Linked DNA regions of Homo sapiens: region 1 is linked to region 2. A link means that fine-mapping ties the variant in region 2 to the expression of a gene that starts in the linked region. Tissue or cell type: whole blood. Region 2 holds a variant in brackets; the other region holds the start of a gene. All regions are shown on one strand. Distances are between the middles of the regions.

Evidence for each region. PIP is the estimated chance that this variant, and not a neighbour inherited with it, causes the effect.
Region 1: RSU1 starts here. The variant in region 2 is fine-mapped to the expression of RSU1 in whole blood (TOPMed, PIP 0.99).

The regions. Positions count from the first base shown.
Region 1 is chr10:16,816,005-16,818,690 of GRCh38, forward strand. RSU1 (Ras suppressor protein 1) reads right to left here and starts at 1,420. Exons shown (of 9, transcript NM_012425.4): 1 at 1,311-1,420; 2 at 969-1,080. The coding sequence starts at 1,077. It overlaps LOC105376435 (a long non-coding RNA gene), which reads left to right and starts at 1,695. Exons shown (of 3, transcript XR_930708.3): 1 at 1,695-1,752; 2 at 2,677-2,686. RefSeq lists enhancers at 899-1,058, 1,729-1,838, 1,869-1,958, 1,989-2,038.
Region 2 is chr10:16,591,518-16,594,203 of GRCh38, forward strand. It overlaps RSU1 (Ras suppressor protein 1), which reads right to left. Exons shown (of 9, transcript NM_012425.4): 9 at 1-1,979. The coding sequence ends at 1,877. Among named protein-coding and RNA genes, the nearest start is that of C1QL3, 71 kb to the left of the region's middle. The variant T/C (reference allele first, on the strand shown) is at 1,396.

The sequences.
Region 1 (2,686 bases), 220 kb after region 2:
CGCCAAGAAACCTGGAGCATTACCGTCGATAATGGACAACCTGGAGAAGTGCGGAGAGGGTTTAAACCAAAGCCACGTCAGCCTGAAGAACTGCTTTAGCTCACTTATCACAGGTTTTTCAAATATTAGAATTAGTAGCCAACATCTAAAAATTAGCAAATTTCACATAAAAATATAGAATCTTGGTTCCTTTAAGAAAATAATCTGGCACATTGGGCCAACATTCCTATGGTGACATGTGTCTGAGTAGCAGGTGCAGCAGCTGGCCCCTTCAAGTGGGACACCTATCACCTAGTTCATAACCGCCCCTGACCGCCCTCACTTGGAGGCATGTGAATCTGCAATCCCTGGTTTTAAGGGAGAGGGTAACACCATAGACAGGGGTTACAGGAAAATGACACTGAAAGTGACCCAGTGATTAAACTGGGCAGTGAAACTGAAGGCAAGAGGGCAAGTTAGGAGGATTTCACCACAGCATGAGGAGGTGACAAAAGCCTGAACCAAGTTCGGAGAATAAATACTCAGAAGAATGTAAAGATTCAAGAAATGCTTAAAACGCTCCAGGCACAAGAATGCTTATTAACCATGGAACTTTTCTGTGTCATTTGTTCATGGACAAAGACTGTATTAGGAGACAGGAAGAAGGACTCAAAATTAATTTTCAATTTATAATTAAAGTGACTATTAAGCAAACTGTGGAAAATCCACCTCAATGCCATACAGCAGAGACAACCGATGAGGCACAGCTGTCTGTGTGATTCTCATCGTGGACTCTCAGGATCGTTTTCCAGGTGGAACAGAACAAATCCTACTGCAAACCCTCTGCGCGAAGCCCCTGACAAGTGAGGTTTACAAGCAGGGGCTGGGGTCTAAACCAGTACAATCGCTCACAGCAGGACCAGCAGTGAATTGGCAAACTTAGAAAGCCTTCCAGCTCATCCACGGGAGAGTCCTGCCCGAGAACTCACAGAGGCCGTTGACATCCAGCATGTTGGAGATGCCCCGGTCACTCATGTCCACCTCGGGCTGGTTCTTCTCCCGGCTCTCCTCCACCAACTTCTTCAGAGACTTGGACATGGTCTGCACCGAACAACAACAAAGCACGTGGGCGATGACAGCAAGCGCAGAGGCGGAAAGGCAAGAGGCCTTCGCTGCCACTCTGAGGCTTCCCCAGGGTTGGAGCGGGTGGGCGTCCGAGGGCGTCCCAGGGGCTGGTCCGGGTGCGGGGAGGGGATGGAGTGGGAAGGGTTCAGCCCCGCTGCGGCCACGCAGCGAGAAGCAACCCCAAGTGCAACACCGCACACACTCACCACGGAAGGTAGCCCCTAAGACGATGGGCGTGCAACCACAAGCTTCGGCAGAACGCACTCCAGCTGCCCTCACTCCCTGCAACACCGGCACTGAACAGCGAACACGCCCTGTCTCGGCGCCCCGCGCAGGCGCACACAGCGCCGCTGCCAGCTCCACGCCCGACCCTACCCATATTAGGAGAACAGCTCTCCAGACGTGTCTCCAGGGCCAGGCTCCGCCCTTAAAAGTCTGTGGAAGAGGCTGGCTAATCACGTTCGTTATTCGGCTTCGAGACCCCGCCCCACGCTGAGGATAGTTTATCCCGGTGGCGTCCACCCCACGGTTTGGGACGCTGATTGGGCCGAAGTTGGCGCGTGCGCAGTAGACTTGGCGCAAGCTCAGTTGATGGGTCGAAGCCCAGAGGGCTGTGGGCGGAAGTGGGGAAGTTTGTGGCGTGACTGTGTAAGGGAGGGTGGTGGCTCAGGGTGGGTGTTGCGAAAGCTGGAAGTAAATTGCTTCCGAATGTTTCGCTTGTGTAATAGCCGCTCCACTCGCCAGAAGTTGCTACCCTGAGCCCGTCTCCACAATGTGCCTCTGAGGGACCTTGTGGGGCACGCAGTTTCCCGCCCTATTAAGAGCTTCTCCAGGCGGGGATTCCGGCGCGGTCTGCGTTTCCCCAGCGCCCTGCTGGAAATCTTTTTTGACAGGTTTCTAAGGCTGGCTTTTAGCCTTTTTACTTGTAGCTAGAACCTACAAGTAAAACCCTACTATTTTAAAAGTCATTTGAAAACACCACTAAAGCGATGTGTCTTTCCCAACTAGGACTTTTACATTTGTGAAACATGACGTTCTGGCTTCCAGGAATCTCTTGCTTTCTCTTCCAAAAGCAACCAAATTTTAAATTCTAGAGAAACTGTTGCCCTCTGCCTCCCTATTTCCTGACCCAGTCTCAGTCACCCAGCAACATCCTGTGCTTCTCTCACCAAAAACCCTGTCCTGAGAGACTATTTTATACTATGGAATAAAAATTGGCACCAGGCACTTTTCTTCTACTGGTCACCTAAATTGATGATAAGACGGATGCCACACATATGCATTTATATATTGTAGATTGTAGCAGGGATCAAAGCCTTAAGGAGATGTGGTAAAATAATGTAATTATATCTCCGAACCAATTGGATAAAAAAAGGATCTGCACTCTTAAATTCGAAAGCAGGTATTTCTTGCTTAAAAAACATTCCAGATGAAAGAGTTATTCCTCCATTAGTCTTCTTTGATCTGGAACCGTCCTTGGCTTTTATGTTTATTGAACTAGACATTATTTAAGAATACAGACCAGGTATTGTGTGGAATATCCTTCAAAGTAAGTTTGATGTTCCCTTTCAGGTTATGAATT
Region 2 (2,686 bases):
CATGTTACTCCTCTTGCACTTAATACTGCCTTAAAAAATATTTGCACATTTCTCTTTGTTACACATGGCTTCTTTTTGCTTTGATCTGTATACTTTTTAAAAATATTACCAGTGAGTCTTCGATGATTGCTTCATGTTTCTGGGAGGTATTTCGTTCCTGTGCGTTTCTGGAGTTTTCATCTTTTGAAAAAAATGACTCATAAGAGCCCTTCATATTGTTAGATTTTTACTAATGCTTTCTTGCTGGTTTAATTTTAGGTTAAGTCTTTCCTATCCACAACAGCAAAGGCCTTGTTCTCCCTCGTGCAATCTCAAAAGCTCAAAAGTCAATTAAAAAAATTCAGGCAGAGGCATACATGGCACCTATAAAAATGATATCAACTCTATCCCTAAACAGGGGATGGGACCTGGGGAAGCCACTTCCCACATTTAAATGTTCTATCAGGAATTTGTCTAGAAGCCAGAAGTTTAGACCTTGCTCTGTGGCCTCTCTGATTGAAATGCGAAGTCTGTTTCCTAAGTAACTCAGAACTTGTTGTTTGATTTTGATTTTTGACTTTTTTATATGCCCCAGTGGGTCCTGGTCTTGGGAGCTCAACTGGGAAGCCGAAAGGATACAGCAGAGATTTTATATGCCCCAGTGGGTCCTGGTCTTGGGAGCTCAACTGGGAAGCCGAAAGGACACAGCAGAGAAGGGCAGGCCCCCTCTCCCAGGCCATTTGACTCTCCCAGGCCATTTGAAAAGACGGTGCATCTTCACATACCATTTTTTTTGTGTCGGCCTTCTGGGGTTGACAGCCCTTTCAGTGAGCACAAAACCTCAGCTTGCATTTATTTTGATTTTCGTAGGTATCACTGTTGAAAAGAAGGAAAGCTGCCTATCACAGATGTTAAACAAACAATTGATTGTTTAATGACTCTGCAACTGTGGTTTCCACCCTGGGTGTGGTGTAGCGCGTGCACATTTACACAACTTCCTTGGCATCGAAGTCGCTTAGAAGAATGCTTCGATGCGAGCAGATTTTCCGCCGTGACAAAATACACAGTTGAGGTTTTTTCTCTCTCTCTTTCACAGTTCTTGTCTACCAGCCCCTGGCAGAAATCACCATTTCTTCGGCGAAGGAATGCTACTTTCCAAAATCCTTTGGCAGAATCTCCTAGAGATTTGTTTTTCTGCTTCCTAATTTAGAAAGTCTTCAAAGAAAAAAAAAACTTGACAAATTAATGTGAGAAGAAACGAACTGTGATTTAATTTTGCATTTCTTTCATGAAAAGTTTATCATGTATAACCAATAAAATTGGATAAGATGATTTTGGGGGAGAAAAGTAAATGAAAATGTGTTATACCCCAAGATCAGACTGTTCTTTTATTCTGAGTCAATAAGTAACATGTGA[T/C]ACAAACTCAAGATTTTATTAAAATCATTTGTAAGTTAAATTAGCATATCTCGGTGGTGAAGGAAGACTTTTAATAAAGCAAAATAATGAGTTAGGTGAATCAACAGAAAGAGTGAAAAGTGTTAACAGTGACATTTAAATGGTTACATGATTTTAATTATTCTTTTGATAATAAGCAACCTTGTGATATCTATTCAAGAAAAGCCAGAGCCCACTATGGAATTCGCAGTTGAATAAGAGCTTTGTTCCCTGCTTTTGGTAATGTTAAAGAAACAAATGGAAATGGTTTAAAGACCTTATAACAATCTCCCACCTAGCAAAAGAATCTAAAAGGTAAGGTGGGAAGCATTAGAAAGAGAGTGAAAAGAAAAATAAAAAAGGCCTCACACGCAGCATTGGGTTTATTTGAGAGACAGGGCAAGAGAGAATGAAGTGTTGGAGAGAGAAGGTGCTGGAAGGCCAGCCGATGCCAATCCCTTCCTTATCTGTTCTTGGCTGCCAGGGGTTTCCGGCTGATCTTTTTCGATTTGTCATTATTCTTCTTCGGTGGTTCTGGGTTGGCCTGCATGTGTCTGCCGTAGAGGCTGCAAAGACAGAGAAAGGACACTATCAGATCTATTTTGCCAACACAAGATAGCTTTCACTGGAAGAGCTTTCAGGAATAGAAGAATCTCCAAAAATATTCAGTAAGCCAAAGAAAACCAAAAGATCACTTCTGTGTTCTCTGGGTGCTACGCTGTGTTGAATATAAAATTCTCTTACACATGCACGCCATGCCATGATGTCCGATCACGGACCAGTCTCTTGGGATTTCACACTCACTGGGAGAAGTGGTCAGGCCCTGCTCAGCCGTTCTGGACTGAAGTTCAAAAGCTTATGAGTGTTTAAGTCGACAGTGATAAAAATGGGATTGAATGGAAGAGACAGAGTGTCCATTTAGTGAAAAGCGAGCATGATGCTTGGCCCGAAAGCCCAGGGGCTGGCTAATGGGACAGAGAGCAATGGTGTCCAAATCTGTGCTGGCTGCTCACCCATGATGGATAGCGTGGGGCTGGCCACCACACATCAATGCCACATTAATAAGTACCGCTGATTAAATGCTGACAAAGTGCCCTATAATTACGGTGGATGGCATTCATTGCGCAGCGAAGCTGGCTCCGTGGCTGAGAGGATTTAACTGAACAGCAGAAGGTAATTAATCGATAATTTATGAGTAATTCTGATTAAACCAAATTAAAAGCCACCCTAAAATAAATACAGCTCAAACTTAACTCCTTTTATTGATATAACT